Linked DNA regions of Homo sapiens. The protein of the gene in region 1 interacts with the protein of each later gene in a pairwise test. Each region holds a gene or a part of one and is shown in the gene's direction. Other genes may lie near its edges.

Region 1 (4,758 bases):
CTCTGGTACAGTGAGTGTTAAACAAGGAGATCACTGAAGAGAGGCTGTTATTTGTTTATCTTTGTATACCCAATCCCTGGTACCATGCACAGTAAGGGCTCAATAAATATTGGCTGGATAATTGAATTAATTGTCAGTAATACTCCATGCTTTCAGAAGCAAATGCAAGATCAGTCACAAACTACCTCTTGCAAGCAGTTTGCTCTATGCATCAGTGACTGCCCGCAGTTTTCTGGATGGCTCTTATAAGTAGCTCTGAAGGTTGCAAAATGGTTCTCAGTTTCCAAGCCTCCATAGTAACATGCTTATTCCAAAGCAAGCCCTTTTTCTTTCTCAGGTGCCTCCTGCCTCAGCTGAGACTGTTGAAGAGAGTTTATAAAACTGACTTCATTTCCTTGATTTAGACTATATTTCAGCCCAGCACATAGAATCGTCATCACTCATTGCTGTGATTGCAGCGTACTGCTTATCTGCATGGAGTTATTCTCTGGGCAAGAAATAATGCCTTATTAACACAGTTTTATCATCAGGACCAAGTTTGGCAGATAGAGCAACATTAGAGGATAATTGGAAGGACAGCTGATTTGTTAGCAAAATGTTGCTTTTTGGGTAATGAATCATTCTGATTTTTGCAGTGACTGTTCAGTAACAAGCTTGAAGATTACTTTGCTTCAGCCCATTAAACCTTGACAAACCAGTTATTAACTACGGCTAGAGCCAATGGCCTGTGGGGATTATTGCAATTATGAGCCATCTATGTAATTTTTAAAAATTAGGCGAGACAAGGTGAGTCTGATGATGGCGGGGCTGATGGCTGACAGTCTCTGCTATTTTGTAGTACACAAGGCAATAAACAGCTGTAGGGAGAACTAATCAGTCAGCAAAAGCCCTTTGCTGGGAAGATGTAGTAAGAGCAATAAAGGTTATTGCTCTCAAACAACAAACCATGTCTGGGAAGGAAAGGGCAAGGTTTTTCTTTAACTTCTATTTTGGAGGCTGGAGGTCTTTTCTCAAAGGAGGATTAGAGGGAAGTAGAGGGAGCACATCAAATAAAGGGAAAAGCCAGGCAGGACTCTCATGGCTTACATTGCATCCCTATGCTTTATTGGATTGTAGCACTGAGGACGCCCATTGGAAGGTACCTGCCCTTTCTCCTTTCTGCTCCCTGTTATTTCTTACAGGGATTTCAAGCTCAGGTGGATAATATATATTAATAGAGAAAAAGGAAAGGGTAAAGATGCTGATTAAATTATAAGTCAAATAAAAACACATCTGTGGGCCAGATCGCAACATCTAGTTTATAAACAAAAGTCCATGTCCTCAGTCTGGATTATGAGACTCTTTGAATCTGACCCGCACTGCTTCAGCCTGATTCTCTTGTATTCTCCTCTTTTGAATCCTTATACCCAGTCTAATTAAGGTGTTCTCCAGATGTGCCTGCCCCACACTTTCTAGTCTCTATGTCTTTTCTACCCCAGGAATGGCTTCTCCTTTGAAATTGATTTCTACATGTTCAAATCATATCCCCTCTCTGAGTCGCAGAAGGGGTGAATTAAATCAACTTTAAGATCTCTTTTTCCTCTAAAGTTTTGTGAGTCTGTGGCATTTTCACCCATGATGGTTAGCATGTCTGTGAATCTAGCTGCATTCTGGGACCTTAACACAGTGTACTATTTTGCATTCTCTAGGTGGGCACATTGCTGGGAGTCTTGCTGTTGTCACAGATGCTGCCCACCTCTTAATTGACCTGACCAGTTTCCTGCTCAGTCTCTTCTCCCTGTGGTTGTCATCGAAGCCTCCCTCTAAGCGGCTGACATTTGGATGGCACCGAGCAGGTACGGTTCATAGAGTGAGCAATAACAGCAGGCTGGTGCTGCAAAGTCAAACCAAGGGTAAAAGTGGAAGACACGAAGCAAAGCCTTGTTGGAAAGTCCTTAGAGACACATTTCTGATGCACAGGATAAAACAAATGTGTATGTGGGAATGTGTGTTTTCAATATTAATTCAGATAACAGACAGATTAATGGTGCTATCTCTAGTCCTCTGGGACAACAGGAACACGTGTATCACTTCAGCAACTGCCCCAGCCTCAGGGACTCTGTGTATGGTGACAGACATAACGCAATTCATTAAATTACTCTGCATCCCTGGAAGAGAGGATAGGAGTAAAGCTTCTGCCATATTGCAAAATGAGGCACAGAGCACCCAAGAGAGTTATAGAGATTGAAGAACTTCTTATAGAGGATTCAGGAATAGAATATAGGCTTTCCTGCTCACACACAGCATTTAGCCATTCAGCCATTGGTCCAATTGAATATCTTGCTCGCTCAATCAACAATAATGCAAAAAAGGAGGAGGAGAAGGAAGAGGAGAAGATGAAAGTTTACTTTTTCTCCTTTCTTGCGCTGGTTCCTTCACTGAATAACTGCTTACTCTTGTATAGGCAGTAGCCAAGGTCATGATAAGGGGTGTGTGTGTGTGTGTGTGTGTGTGTGTGTGTATTCATTCTTTATTGCTCAGTTGACTGTTGTAACAGGAGGAAAGCAAACACGTGCTGAAACATGTGCCTGAGCCTTGCCTGCCATTTATTAAATGTGGTTCACGTGTGCTTCCTTAAATAATTTCACAATAGACAAATGAATCCACTCTGATTAAGAAAGGGAGAGAAGAAGTCTAGTGCAAATTCCAGCCTTCTCAACTCATAATTATAGGGATTTCAAATAACATGTATGCACTAAAACAGACATAAATAACTTAACCAAGTAGCATAAACAACTTGGAGGTCTCTAAATTTGGTATATAACACATTTGACTGTATGCTTTTTTAAATTTTAATTTTAATTTTAATAAGTTCTGGGGTACATGTGCAGGATGTGTAGGTTTGTTACATAGGTCAACGTGTGCCGTCATGGTTTGCTGCACCTATCAACCCATCATCTAGGTATTGATAAGGGTTTTTACTTTGACTCATTTTTACAGTCCCTCCCTAACCCACCCCCACAACCCCCACACTCTGCAACTTCAATTCTTCTCCTCTGTGTTATTCCTTCTATCAGCTGGAGGAGGTTCCGGCTGAATATTTTGTGCAAATCATGTGAACAAATAGCCACAATTCCACATTTTCACACTGGTTGAGAACATCCATGTAGAGGAAATTGGAGAGCTGAGCAAGGGTGGCCAGCCTTCACTGAAAGGGCTGCTAGACACATATCACAGCTTATAGACTGATAACTGTGGACTGCGGCTTTTCAAGTTTAGAATGGCAGGAAGTCCTAATTTCATACTAAACAAACACTTGATCATCGCAGGTGTTTTGACTTGCTTCCCTTTAACATTCAGGAGATGAGGCAATAAACAGCAGTAAAGAGAGTTTGTGACAACGTGATCTGAGAATGTTTTTGCTGGTGCTTGAACAGCGCTACACTTGGAAAACATGGACCTGTAGCTAAGCACCCATTATTTGTCTGTGTAAAGTTTTACATGTACTTGACCCTTTCTGATACCATTTGTCAAAGCAGTTTTGTAAACCTAGGATGATTTGAAAATGTAGGGTGAACTCAGAATTTAGATCTCTGCTTGTACTTTGGCATCGTGGCCATGGAAGACCCTGAGCTATTAATAGAACTCTCTGCTGCGAGGGCAATATTCTGTAATATACAGTAAAATGTAGCTATTGAGCACTTTAAATGCAGCTAGTGCTACTGAAGAACCAGATTTTAAAATTTACTTAATTTCATTTTAAGCAGCCATGCATGATTGGTGGCTACCATATTAAACAGCACCTCTATAGATACAGAGGTGAGTCCAACACATTCATACGCAACACACCCATAATCTGGCCAGCCCAATGAGCCCAGCTAAGCTAACTTATTTCTTTTTTAAGCAATCATTGTAACATTTACCAATGATCCTCATGTGCCTCCTGTTCTAACTAGTTACTTTTGGATTTCTGACTCTTTGTTTTGTCTTAAGATCTGACTCCTGACTCTTGCTCTTGGTATTGAGCTTTACCTCGCCAGCTCTTTTCCCACTGTGCTTCCTAATCATGGGTTTTGAGTTAGACACACTCCACTTTCATACCCTGTTTTGGATTTTCATGGATAGGAAGCACACTACCTGACATCCACAGACTCAACCTCCATTTCCGGCTAACCAGAAATTCTTGGGCTTGGTCCTCATAAACTTCTGCAAAGGGGAGTCGTAAGTAGCCTGAGTAGACTAATAAAATAACAATTTCTTGAGTGTTTGCTATATGTTATATTAGGTTCCTAGGGCTGCCTTAATAATGTACTACAAATTGGGTACAGTATTTTGGGGGGTACATTATTAATTTTCATAACAAATTATGAAGGTTGTCTATGAATGAGGTCGGGGAAATAATTGCCATACACTGGGTAATAATATATTACATTACTTGGTTTTAAATACATTTCTGTTTAAACAACAGACATTTATTGTCTCACAGTTATGAGAAACAGAAGTCTGCAATCGGGCGTCAGTGGGGTTGGTTCCTTCTGAGGTCTGTGAGGGGAAGTCAGTTCCAGGCCTCTCTCTTAGCTTCTGGTGGTTTTCTGGGAAACTTTGTCATTCCTTAGCTCATAGAGCTCTGCTTTCATGTTTACATGGCATTTTCCCAATTTGCATGTCTATGTCCAGGTTTCCACTTTAAACAAGGACACCAGCCATATTGGGCCCATCCTACTCCAATGTGACCTCATCTTAACTAACTTAATCTGCAGTGACCCTATTTCCAAATAA
Region 2 (4,128 bases), on another chromosome or scaffold:
TAATGATAATTGAATAATTGAATTATGGAAAATCAGTTGTACAGTAGACTTAGAAAAGTTTCTTCAGTTGGTCCATTAAGGTTAGTCATGGTCTTTGGGAGAGATATGCAATGTGTCAGACACCCATGCTTCCATATTTAACGCAAGCTCTCCACTTAGTTGAGACCTCAGCCTTTCAAGTAAACATACAATGGCACTTTTAAGGCAGAGGGTGGAAATCATGGTCCTGTTCCCTGGTTCTCTCCTGCTGCTTGTTTCTTTTGCCATTCTGCCAGGGAAGTTAGCTAGGAAGCCAGTGCACAGCCATCCTTTGATCTGTCTGTAGTTGAAGAGCAAAGAGAATGTGTTTTTTTTTTCTTACCACAGAAATATGGTCCAGGGAGTCCTGGGAGAATCAGACAAAGGATGATATTAACACTCTTCCCTTTGGACAGCAATTGGTGAAGTCAGGGAATTATTGTTAGCATCTGTTTTCTACATGTATCAAACCCTTATCCAGTATATAAGTCTTAGTAATTGCTGTGATTTTCTATTTGATTTTTTTAATGTTTCTTGTTTTATTTGCTTTAGAATGTTCGGGACCCAACAGGAGCCTCCATTGCCCTCTTTACTGCCAGGTTGCATCATCCCCACAAGTCAGTCCAACATGTGGTACTTCAGGCTCTGTTTTACTTGCTAGACAGAGCTGTGGATAGGTAAGCATTGAGATTATTTTTTAGGTATTCTACATGCAGGTAGGAAAGTGACAGTTTTTTACTTGATTAAATTCAGCAGTGCCTTCGCCATTCTCCTAGGATGTGCCCTGGGCAATGCTATGAATAGAAAACAATCCATGTCCTTTAGAACTCGGCATGTTTGCAGGCACTATCAAGATGGTGGGCGTTCTCTTTACCACCTTGGCTCTATGTCAGGAAAACAGAAGCTGAGAAAGTCAATTATCGGCAATCTTCAGTGTATGGAAAACTACTTATTGGAAAAGAATGAGGGGGAGATGACCTGTGCTGGTTCTTTTTGCTCATATCAGAACCTCTAAGGCCTCAGTTTCTTTGTCTGCATAACAGGAATAATGCCGTTTAGTTCAGAGGATTTTGAGACTCAACATTCAGGGGAGGGCTGGGTGCAGTGGCTCACACCTGTAATCCCAGCACTTTGGGAGGCTGAAGCAGGTGGATTGCTTGAAGCCAGGAGTTGAGACCAGCCTGGACAACATGGTGAAACCCTGTCTCTGATAAAAAATACAAAAAATTAGCTGGGTGTGGTAGCGTGCACCTTTAGTCCCAGCTTCTTGGGGGAGGTGGGGGAGGTTGCTGAGGTGGGAGGATCACTTGAGCCCAGAATGGTGAAGCTGTAGTGAGCCATGATCACGCCACTGCATTCCAGCCTGGGTGACACAGCAAGACCTGTCTCAAAAAAAACCCCACAAAAAAGCCCACACAAAACAAACAACAACAACAAAAAAACATTCAGGGAGAAGCCCAGAAGTATAAAGTTAAGCAAAAACCATCCTTAATAAAAAGAGGTGCATAAGCATAAAGAACCAGCTCAGGTCATCACTCTCTTCCTGCTAAGGTAATTGGTATTGTTACAATTCAATTGACAATTAAACTCAAGCCCCAAGAAGTTTTTTACAGTCATCATATGTTAGTCCAGCTGGTTCTAAGATCCTGGTTTCTTCACTCTTGGGCAGAGTTATTTCTGTCCTCCCATGCTGTTGTTCTGCTATTCCTTTTTCCCTGGTGCTTGTAATTTACAGTTTCTTACTGCTCTCGACATCTTTGGCTGGTCCTCCGGATTAGAAGTGCTATATTGAGGCCAGGCGCATTGATTCATGCCTGTAATCCTAGCACTTTGGTTGGCTGAGATGGGCAGATTGTCTGAGCCCGGGAGTTTGAGACCAGCCCTGGGCAACATGATGAATCCACTCGCTTCTTGAGGGCAGGAAACTTTCTTTTTAACATCCGAATCTCTGTAGGTTGAGAGAGAATGGTATCGTGAACATCCACATATCCATCATCCGTCTTCTTCAAAGTGATCTGTAACAGTCTTGTTTCATTGGTAGCCCCTCATGGATCTCCTATCCTCAGTTTCTTTCTTTTTTGTTTTTTGAGACTAGGGCTTGGTTTGTCACCCAGGCTGGAGTGCAGTAGCATGATTGTAGCTCACTGCAGTCTTGAACTCCTGGACTTAAGCAATCCTCCCATCTCGGCCTCCCAAAATGCTGGGATTACAAGCATAAGCCATTGCATCTGGCTTCTCCGTTTTTTTAAAACCAATGTCAGGGACTGTATTTTAAACTTCTTGGTGTTTTCTGTAACATGTAGCTCAAGAATTAAAAAAATATTTTTTTTATTTTTTTTTTCCTTTGAGACGGAGTCTCGGTCTGTCCCCCAGGCTGGAGTGCAGTGGCGCTATCTCAGCTCGCTGCAAGCTCCGACTCCCGGGTTCGTGCCATTCTCCTGCCTCAGCCTCCCGAGTAGCTGGGACTACAGGCGCCTGCCACCACGCCCGTTTTTTTTTTTTTTTTTTGTATTTTTAGTAGAGATGGGGTTTCACCTTGTTAGCCAGGATGGTCTCGATCACCTGAGCTCGTGATCCACCCACCTCAGCCTCCCAAAGTGTTGGGATTACAGGCGTGAGCCACCGTGCCCGGCCCATTGTAAATCTTAAACTGGGTGCAGTGGCTCATGCCTGTAATCCCAACACTTTGGGAGGCCAGGTGAGAGGATCGCTTGAGCCCAGAAGTTCGAGACCAGCCTGGGCAACATAGCAAGGCCTCGTCTCTACAAAAAGTTTAAAAATTAGGCAGCCAGGCATGGTGGTATTTGCCTGTAGTCCCAGACACTCACGGAAGGCTGAACTGGGAGGATCACCTGAGCCCTGGGAGGATCACCTGAGCCCTGGGAGGATCATCTGAGCCCTGGGAGGTCGAGGCTACAGTGCGCCATGATTGTGCCACTGCACTACAGCATGGGCAACAGAGTAAAATGCTGTCTTAAAAATATATATATTCTGGTGGCTCACGCGTGTAGTCCCAGCACTTTGGGAGTCCAAGGGGGTGGATCTCCTGAGGTCGGGAGTTTGAGACCAGCCTGGCCAACATGGTGAAACCCCGTCTCTAGTAAAAATACAAAAAATTAGCCAGGCGTGGTGGTGGGTGCCTGTAATCCTAGCTACTCGAGAGGCTGAGGCAGGAGAATCACTTGAACTTGGGCGGAGGTTGCAGTGAGCAGAGATCGCACTATTGCACTTCAGCCTGGGCAACAAAAGCGAACTCTGTCTCAAAAAAAAAAAAGTATATGTATATATATACACACATATATAAACACACACACATCTATCTATCTATCTATCTATCTATCTATCTATCTATCTATCTATTCTATACCCTAAAGTGTGAAAATCTTACTGCATTCATGTTTTATGTGCCTTCACAGGATGAGCACTTTGATCTGGGAATATAGAACCTGGATCATTCATTATGCATCCAAGCTTCTTTTTTTTTAAATTCTCTTTGCCCCCTCACTGACTTGTTTTTGTTTTAGTCCCCTGCCACAACCTGGAGTCATGAGGGGAAAGCCCATAATTTGAATTTGACCCTTGAGGAGCTCATGGAGAAATAGAAAGTATCTAGATCTGGATAGCCTATTCAATAATTGTGCCACACATTTTCTTTGTTTCTTTTTATTTAAGAGACAGGGTCTCACTTTTGCTCGGGCTGAAGTGCAGTTGCATCATCATAACTCACAGCAGCCTCAACTCCTGGGCTCAAATGATCCTCCTGCCTCTGTCTCCCAAGGAGCTGGGACCACAGGCACGTACTAATAAACCCGTCCAATTTTAAAATTTTTTTGTAGAGGCGGAGTTTCACTCTGTTGACCAGGCTGGTCTCGAACTTCTGGCCTCAAGCAGTCTTCACATCTCAGTCTCCCAAAGTGCTGAGATTACAGGTGTGAGTCACTGGACCTGTCCTGTGCCACACATTTTAACAGCATCTTGGACCTTTGTGGATCATAGTCTCTCTGGGGTTGTGAAAAAGGAGTCAAGGGCAGGGCGCAGTGACTCACACCTGTAATCCCAGCACTTTGGGAGGCCGAGGGGGGCAGATCACTTGAGGTCAGGAGTTTGAGA
Region 3 (4,803 bases), on another chromosome or scaffold:
GAACCAGACCTGGACATGACCTGATAACTCAGCCCTTTCCTGCCCCTCAGCCATCGCTCAGCCAGGGCCCCTGAGCTCCCTCCAGGACCTCCTCTGCGAACTGTCAAGTGCACCTGGACTCTGAGGGCTGGCGATGGTGGGTGTGAGGAAGGAGAAACCCCTGTTGGAAAAAGGGCCTATGAGAAGGACGTCTAGTTAGAGGGGCAGCTGTGAGCACAGGTGTGGGGTTAGGGAACAAGGGCAGCCCTGCTGGCAGGAGGGGAGAAGGTGATGACCGCCAACAGGAAATCCCCAAGCCCAGCAAGTCAGGGAGCCCATTGAAAGCCTTTTATCCTGCATCGGCGATTTAACCCCATGTAAACGCCAAGTGAACATTCTCTTGTAGAGACCGATGGTCCTCATTTTCCTGTAATCCTGTAAAGGAATCTGATTTCTTCCATCAGCCTGTCCCTAGGACTAAAATGCCTCATTAGTGTTATTCTTAGGAAGGCATCTTCCTAGATCAGGCTGCAAGGAAATGGAGGAAGTGACTGTCAGTCACTCACACCCTGCAGGGGCACTAATTCCGAGAGCCTTAGGGGTGGGTGGGGAGCAGTTCATTGAAAGCCCAACTGGGTGGTGCATAGCGTGTGAATGTGAAGGGGATGGAGGAACCCAAGGAGGCCAGGCCTGGAGACAGCACCAAATCTGGGAGGTACATTATTATTCCCATTTTACAGAGGAGGAAACTGAGGTAACCTGATCATGACCACACTGCCCCACAGTAGAGGAGCCAGAATCCAAACCCAGGCAGCCTGCCTTGCCACCAGAGCCACGCTTTTCACCCTCAAGCTGCAGTTAAGAAGTATCACGCCGTGGCTAGGCCCACGGCCTCTGGCTTCACATCCCACTAGCTCTGCCATCTTTAGCTGTGTGACCTTGGGCAAGTTACTTGTCTGTGCCCGAGGGTCCTCTGTAAAGTGGGGATAGTAGTAGCTGCTTCACTGGGTTCCCTTCAATGAGTTAATAGCTGTAACATGTTTAGAATGGTGCCCTGCACATAGTCACCAGCCAGTACATATGGGCCATTATTCCTGAACCCTGGATAGGCACATGTCCTTGAAGAGTGTAGAATTCTTCAGGATTCTGAAATGCCAGCCTGTGGGATCCTGGAATCCTCCAATAGCATTCTAACAGCTCTCAGCTGCAGAACTGTACCCTGTTTTCTAGAGCTGGAAGGTGTGAGGCTGCCTGTCCACCCAGCTCAACCCCACAGTAGGCAAATGAGGTGATGTCAAAGCCTTGGCTGGGGCCCAGCCCCGGTAACCTCCCACTCTCCCTCCCCTGTGTGCTCCCTCGCTCAGATTCACACACACACTCCAGGCCAGCCGGGCCCAGAGGGAAGGTGAGAGGGCAAGGAGTAAAGGTGGCTGGGTGTGGGTCCGTTGAAGCGAGCCGCCTCCAGCCCTGTTGAACTGGTGGGCCCAGGGACTGGAGCGGGATTGAAAGGGATCTTGCTCTCCCTTGAAGCCTTGAGTTGCAGCGATTTCAGTGTCTTCTCTCCCTGTGTAAGCCTGTCTCGGTGTTTAGGCTGAACTACAGCCACCCCCTCTCCCGGGGGTGTGCAGGCCAGGGACTGGCCAGGCAGCCATGGCTGACGAGAAGACCTTCCGGATCGGCTTCATTGTGCTGGGGCTTTTCCTGCTGGCCCTCGGTACGTTCCTCATGAGCCATGATCGGCCCCAGGTCTACGGCACCTTCTATGCCATGGGCAGCGTCATGGTGATCGGGGGCATCATCTGGAGCATGTGCCAGTGCTACCCCAAGGTAGGTGGTAGTGGGGCTGGGTGGGGCCAGGTCAGCTGGGGCCAGGAGGGCTGGACACTGTGCCTGTATGCCATGCCTCACCCCCTATCCTTTAGTTGTCTTTTCATTCTTCTCATTTTGACTCGGTCTTCTCTCTGCTCTCCTGAGCGTCTGTCCCATCCATCCATCCATCCATCCATCCATCCATCCATCCATCCCTTAGCCTAAGGGTTGATCAGAAGGCCCCTGGATCTGGAGCCCTGAGCCGGAAGCTATGGTATAGACACAGCAAACACAACACACCATGTGCTTGAAACAAAAGCTAATGAGCGCTGACCCCCTGCCAGGCACTCCTGCGTTCAGGGTGCAGTTCAGCCCTCATCCTAAGCCTTTTGGTGCTTTCTGTAGTTCCACCTTCTGAGCCTTTCTGAGGTCCAGAAAGAGAGGCTGCACAGCTAACGAGCAAGGTTTGGAGCTCAGATGCGTGTGACTTACACGTCACCCTTCACCTTGGGTCTTCTACCTCTGGGTCCCAGAGCGACTGAGAGCTCCAGGGTAGGTCAGGTCTAACCTTGGTGGCATGCACTGGGCAGTATCCTTTAGAGTCTTCATGTATTCTCAGCCTTATGTGTAATTTAGTGATGGGAAGAGCACTGGTTTGGGAGTCCTGAGTTCTAGTTCAAGTCCTGTTCCAAACTCTCTATGACCTTTGTCTTTCTGAGCCTCATTTTTTTCATCTGCAAATGAGATCCCTGCCCCTATTTTCCACAGAGCTTCACAGGGTCATTATAAAGATCAGAGAAGAGATAAGATATAGGAATATTTTGTAAACTGTAAGGTGTTATTTATAGATGAAGGGCTACCACTGTTACCCATACTGATCCTCCCAACAGCTCTGTGGAATGGAAATGCCAGGAGTTGCGAATCTTCAATGCCTAGAGAGGCTGGGTGACTTCCAAGGTCACACAGCTGGTCAGGTACAGACCCAGGGAGAAAAGGAGGGAAATAGGGACTCTAACTTGGGCTCTGTCTCTTACTGCCTGGGAGACTTTGCTCAAGCCCCTTTCCTCTCTGAGCCTCAGTTTCCTCATTTGTACACTGTGTGAGTTAGGAGGGGGGGGTGGGAAAGGGGGTATATCTGGGGGCCCTGCTGGACCTAATATCTAGGGCTCCAGGTCCAGGCAGTCCTCAGCAACCCCCACACCTCCTCTCCTCCCACCTGGGTGGCTGTGCTCAGGGTTTCAGGGAAGAAGGGGGATGGCTCCCTGGGGCCTGGGCCGGCTCTCCCCAGCCCTGCCCCCTCCACGGGCCAACCCTGGGCTGTCATTCTGTTCAGTGCTGGAGCGGTCTGGGCTGGTTTGTAGTCATTTAGCAGGCAGTTTACAGTCAACTTGCCTCTGTCTGTGCAATTCCTTGAGCAGAGGTCACTGGGAGAAGTCCTTGGGGCCAAAGCCACTCATGTCACCACTGCTATTATAATCCTTCTCCCAGTGAGGAGGCTGGACCCTGGGGGACAGCAGAGGGATGGCAGAGGTGTGGAGAGGAGCATCCTTCCTGCCCCCGCTCTTAAATAGAGCTGGCTCTGGGATGGTTGGTAGGCTGATGGGAGTGACGGTAGAGGGGAGGGGAGGGGAGGAGGGAATATTGCTGGGTATTAATGAGTAACTGTTGATAGATTCATGGGTTCACGTGCTGTGGAGGCAGCGTGGTGGGCTGAAAATGGCACATGTTGTGGCAACCTCCAGGCCCAGATTCAAATCCCTGCTCCTTCATGTCCCACTTCTGTGACCTTGGCAGAAAGAGTCCCTCCCCCTCAGCTCTGAGCCTTGTACGGCTGATTGGGAGAACACAGTGGGATCGTGTGTGTGTGTGTGTGTGTGTGTGTGTGTGTGTGTGTGTGTGTTGGGGGAGACCTGGCATCACACCTGCCATGGAACATATGTGAAGGCATTGTTCTTAGGATTGAGGATTGGTATTTGCGGCACTGGGTGGGCCTCTGCATGAGTGCAGGTGTGTGTGAGTGTGTGTTTCAGAGATGCAGGCTGGTAGAGCCAGCACAAATTGACTCCAATAAGGGAAGGGAGGAAAGCACCTTATAAACCAGGGAGACACTCTAGAGGCGAAGCTCCCTGGATCCTGCTTGGTCTCATTGGTGCCTGGGCCAACGCTGCCTGCAGTGCTCCTGCCTGTCCTCCCCTCAGCCTCCTCCCCGTGGCTCTCTGTGCCAGACCTATGGAAAGTTTTGATAAATGGGGAGATATAAATATAAGGGAATAGAATTAGCTAATTAGGATATAGGGGTGAGGGGTAGCCAATACCAACATGCATTAAGCTGTCCATGTCTTTTAGGGGCTAGAGGTCTAGTGGGAGAGGCTATTTGCTGCCTGATGGGGAGGAAACAGGCTTCACAGAGAAGGTGAGCTGGGCTTTGTAGGTGAGATAAGAGTTCACCAAGCAGAGAAGATGGGGAAAGACATTCCAGGCAGAAGAGTAGCATGATCAAAGCAATGTGGTAAAAGAATAAGGCAAGTGGGCCATTGTGGCTACGAGAGGCAGAGGGGAGGAAGGTAAAGGTAGCGAGGGAGTGGGGCTCAACTCTTCAGGGCCTGGGATGCCATGGTAAGGAATTTGGAGCTTGTCCTTTAGTTAATGGGACACGACCAGCTTTGCAGTTTGAGAAAGACATCCAGAAGAAGGAAGGTCTGGGGGCAGCCATACCAGTGGGGAGGCTTCTTCTCTGGTCTTGGTGAGAGCTGACAGTCATCTGGAATAATGCAGAATTCAAACACAAAGCTGTAGGAACTAAGGTGACATTTACAGTTCACTTCACATAGAGTACCCGTTGTGGCTAGGCATAGCACCAGCACTTCCACCCAGGTTATCTTATTGAATTTCTGAAGTAGACCTGGTCAGATTTGGTGGTCAGCTGGGCCTCAGGCATGAGAGAGGAGAAGGGATCAGGGCAAATCTAGTGGATGGGACAGTTGGAGGTGCTGAGCCCATTAGTGAAGATGGGGC
Region 4 (4,128 bases), on another chromosome or scaffold:
TGTGGCTTTAAAAATATTAATAAATGTTCTGTGTATTACTCTGTATTTTTTAATTTTAAAAATGTAGGGTAGGCCGGGCACGGTGGCTCACGCCTGTAATCCCAGCACTTTGGGAGGCCGAGGTGGAAGGATCTCGAGGTCAGGAGATCGAGACCATCCTGGCCAACATGATGAAGCCCCGTCTCTACTAAAATACAAAAAATTAGCTGGGTGTGGTGACACGCGCCTGTGGTCCTAGCTACTCAGGAGGCTGAGGCAGGGGAATCGCTTGAACCCGGGAGGTGGAGGTTGCAGTGAGCTGAGATTGTGCCACTGCACTCCAGCCTGGCGATAGAGCAAGACTCCATCTCAAAAAAAAAAAAAAGTAGGATATGCCAATAAGCAAAAACGAAGTTGCCTATAATCTCACCAAACTATAACATTTTGACAGATATTCTACCAGTGTTCTCTTCTGTTTTCTCTTTCTCTAACACACATCTATATGTTTTAAAAGTAATATTTAACTCTTCTCCACTTCCTTTCCTCTTCCTGGAAAAATTCAGTCCAAAAACTATTAGGTGAGGTCAAGCATGAGAGGCATCCTCTATAGAAAGACAAGTTGTGGTGGCCCAGAGCAGGCTGCTGGGCTCAGGCAGGGTGGGAAGGGGCAGCTCAGCATGGGCTCAGATCCTGAGCAGGGTGAGGAGGGGATCCATGCAGCGGAGCGTGGGATGGAAGAAGGCAGCCCTACATGGGATGCTGGAGTCTGAGCAGGGTGAAGAGGCTGTCCAGATGGGGCAGGAGAAGCAGTGTGGCAGCTCTGTCCGCTAAGAGTGCCCAGAACAGCTACACCCCAACACCAGGAGCACACCTATAGCCCCCAGTTATGGAGCATCATGTTGACAAATACCAGACGTTTCAGTAAAAAGATTATTTAACTAGTAACTTTTCTATAAATTGGAGAACATACATAAAAATAATCATAGCAGAGAACAAATAGAGATTGTTCATTCCAAAGTGTCCCTAATAGTGAAGACAGGATTGTGGTGGCTCACAGAGGGCTCTGAAGTTTATTCAGATGGCTCAGCAAGGAAAACGAGCTGAGAACCAGTAACCCAAGAACATTTATTTGTGTTTTACTTTTATATATGAAACCTGTTTTTAATGTATCTATTTTATATACAAAATAATTTAGTACTGTACAGAGATCACTGAAAATAATTGAGTATTTTGATCATTCTGAAACTTAGATTTGTATGAATAAATTAAGACATCATATTACTGTGAAAAAAACTAGGATTCCTATATTCACTTTTTTTTTTCATAGATACAAGGTCTTACTATGTTGCCCAGGCTGGTCTCAAAGTCCCGGGCTTAAGCAATCCTCCTACCTTGGCCTTCCAAAGTGCTGAGATTACTGGCACAAGCTACCAGGCCTGACCTAAACACATTTATTGAGCACCTACTATGTGCGAAGCCCCTAGCCTTGTGCTAGGCATTGAGAATGAAAATGAGAAACAAGACAGACAATGGCTCCTGTCCTCATGAAGCTTATATTCTAGTGTTAGACACACACAACTAAATGGGTATATATATCATAGGTATAATGTTTTGTAACTTTAACTTGATGTATTGTGAACGTTTTCCCATGACATTTGGAATGTTTCAAAGGATACTTCTAAAGAAAGCAAGCCTATCTCAATTTAGAGTGGTATGCTATGAAGAGTTAGTAAAACACCTTATGTTTAGAGCCTGTATCAAGGATTTAAAAAACAAGATTTTACCACTTGAATCTCTATTCGATAATATCTTCAGAGCAAAAAGTTATTGTATTGTTTGAAATATAATTATTTCTCCAAACATTTGATATCAGTACAAAATTACTACAAAAAAATTTATTCCAAAGCCAATTTTAAGAAATATTTGGATTATCCAGGGCCCATTTTCTCCCTCTGCCATTGCCATACATGAGTACATGTTATGTCTGATACATACAAATGGAATATCAGATAGAACCAAGCAAAATTATCTTTTTACCTGTTCCAATCTTAGCAAAAGAAAATTTTGAGAATTTTGTTCCCGATTTTTTTTTTAAGAGACGGAGTTTCACTCTTGTCGCCCAGGCTGAATCGCAGTGGCACGATCTGAGCTCACCACAACCTGTTTCCCGGGTTCAAGCAATTCTCCTGCCTCAGCCTCCCAAGTAGCTAGGATTACAGGCATGTGCCACCATGCCCAGCTAATTTTGTATTTTTAGTAGAGACGGGGTTTCTCTGTGTTGGTCAGGCTGGTCTTGAACTCCTCACCTCAGGTGATCCGCCCACCTTGGCCTCCCAAAGTGCTGGGATTATAGGCATGAACCACCACGCCCAGCCTCGTTCCCAAATTTTAACAATCGAGACTCACCTGAAAGACTTGTTAAAACTCAGATTTCTGGGCCCCATGCCCAGAGTGTCTGCTTTGCTAGGTTTGGGTTAGGGCCAAGAGAATTTTCTTGTCAAATAGGTTGCCAAGTAATGCTGATTCCGCTAGCCTGGGGCCCATGACCACTGCTCTAGAGAGTATCTGGCTGGGCGCAGTGGCTCACACCTGTAATCCCAGCACTTTGGGAGGCCGAGGCGGGCGGATCACAAGGTCAGGAGTTCGAGACCATCCTGGCTAACACGGTGAAACCCCATCTCTACTAAAAATACAAAAAAAATTAGCCGGGCATAGGTGGTGCATGCCTGTAGTCCCAACTACTCGGGAGGCTGAGGCAGGAGAATGGCGTAAAACCTGGGAGGCAGAGGTTGCAGTGAGCCGAGATCGTGCCACTACACTATAGCCTGGGAGACAGAGCGAGACTCCGTCTCAAAAAAAAAAAAAAAAAAGGAGTATCTGGTTGAAGAGACCAGTCATATGAACTCTTTACTCAAGAACTGAAGGCTTATGAGCCAGGTGTAGTGGCACTTTGGGAGGTCAAGGCAAGGAGGATCTCTTGAGGCCAGGAGTTTGAGACCAGCCTGAGCAACATAGCAAGACTTTGTCTCTACAAAAATTTTTAAAAATTAGCTGGGTGTGGTGGTGCACACCTGTAATCCCAGCTACTCAGGAGGCTGAAGTGGGAGGATCACTTGAGCCTGGGATTTCAAGGCTGCAGTAAGCCATGGTTGTGCCACTGCATTCTAGCTTGAGCAACAGAGTGAGACCCTGTATCTTTAAAAAAAAAAAAAAGACTTTCAGGCCTAACCTTACATTTGAGAAACTGTAGATTATTGTTTCTGGTAATTGGTGTCATGGACCCTGATTTCTTGGTTTTATTTTATTCATACAGGATTAATGCAGTATCGAATGGACAAGTCCGAGGTGATAGTTACAGTGAAGGTTGTCTGGGTCAAACAGGTAAATAGGTGCAAACAGCATCTTATTATACATGCTTAAATCCTTAAGATGAGTATTTCACATGGAAATACCACTTTTCTATTTGTTTTAATATATCTGTGAGTAACAGCTTATTATTTTGAATCTATTGTTTTATGTTTTGGGCTTGAAATTGGGAATTAATATATAACATTCTATTTGCCGTGCTTTATTGAGTGTAGGCAGTGTTTTTATTAAAATGTATTTATGCAAATTAAAGAGGCCCTATCAGAATTCATTTTAGGCAGTCATGACTCCATTTATTTATAGCAAATCTTCATAAACATGTTAATGTGATTTGAAAGTTGCCTGTCCTCCTCTGTTAACATAATTTTAATGCAACCTTCCTAAGTTCTAGTCACAGTAAATTTGAATTTATTTTGCTGCCTAACTTCCCTGAAAGTGAAATATGGTAGCTTGGAGATTCGTATGTCACTGAATATGAATTTTTTACTGTATGTCTGTGTTACTGTTTGAAAGTACTCTTGGAAGATCTGGGAGCGGCCGGGCACAGTGGCTCACGGCTGTAATCCCAGCACTTTGAGAGGCCAAGGCAGGCAGATCACAAGGTCAGGAGATCGAGATCATCCTGGCTAACACAGTGAAACCCCGTCTCTACTAAAAATACAAAAAATCAGCTGGGCGTGGTGGCGGGTGCCTGTAGTCCCAGCTACTCTGGAGGCTGAGGCAGGGGAATGGCATGAACCTGGGCGGGTGGAGCTTGCAGTGAGCCGAGATTGCGCCACTGCA

What was found. Proteins that work in one complex are often made in the same cells at the same time.
Region 2: the proteins of SLC30A8 (region 1) and PTPN9 interact in binary tests that used the Homo sapiens proteins (3 or more experiments, as listed by UniProt).
Region 3: the proteins of SLC30A8 (region 1) and BSND interact in binary tests that used the Homo sapiens proteins (3 or more experiments, as listed by UniProt).
Region 4: the proteins of SLC30A8 (region 1) and TMEM50A interact in binary tests that used the Homo sapiens proteins (3 or more experiments, as listed by UniProt).

Annotation. Positions count from the first base shown.
Region 1 is NC_000008.11:117,151,256-117,156,013, forward strand, and holds part of SLC30A8 (proton-coupled zinc antiporter SLC30A8), read left to right. Parts: intron 1-1,688; coding exon 1,689-1,835; intron 1,836-4,758. UniProt on the Homo sapiens protein: Proton-coupled zinc ion antiporter mediating the entry of zinc into the lumen of pancreatic beta cell secretory granules, thereby regulating insulin secretion.
Region 2 is NC_000015.10:75,519,688-75,523,815, reverse strand, and holds part of PTPN9 (tyrosine-protein phosphatase non-receptor type 9), read left to right. Parts: intron 1-570; coding exon 571-695; intron 696-4,128. UniProt on the Homo sapiens protein: Protein-tyrosine phosphatase that could participate in the transfer of hydrophobic ligands or in functions of the Golgi apparatus.
Region 3 is NC_000001.11:54,997,558-55,002,360, forward strand, and holds the start of BSND (barttin), read left to right. Parts: upstream 1-1,375; 5' UTR 1,376-1,629; coding exon 1,630-1,806; intron 1,807-4,803.
Region 4 is NC_000001.11:25,348,334-25,352,461, forward strand, and holds part of TMEM50A (transmembrane protein 50A), read left to right. Parts: intron 1-3,292; coding exon 3,293-3,360; intron 3,361-4,128.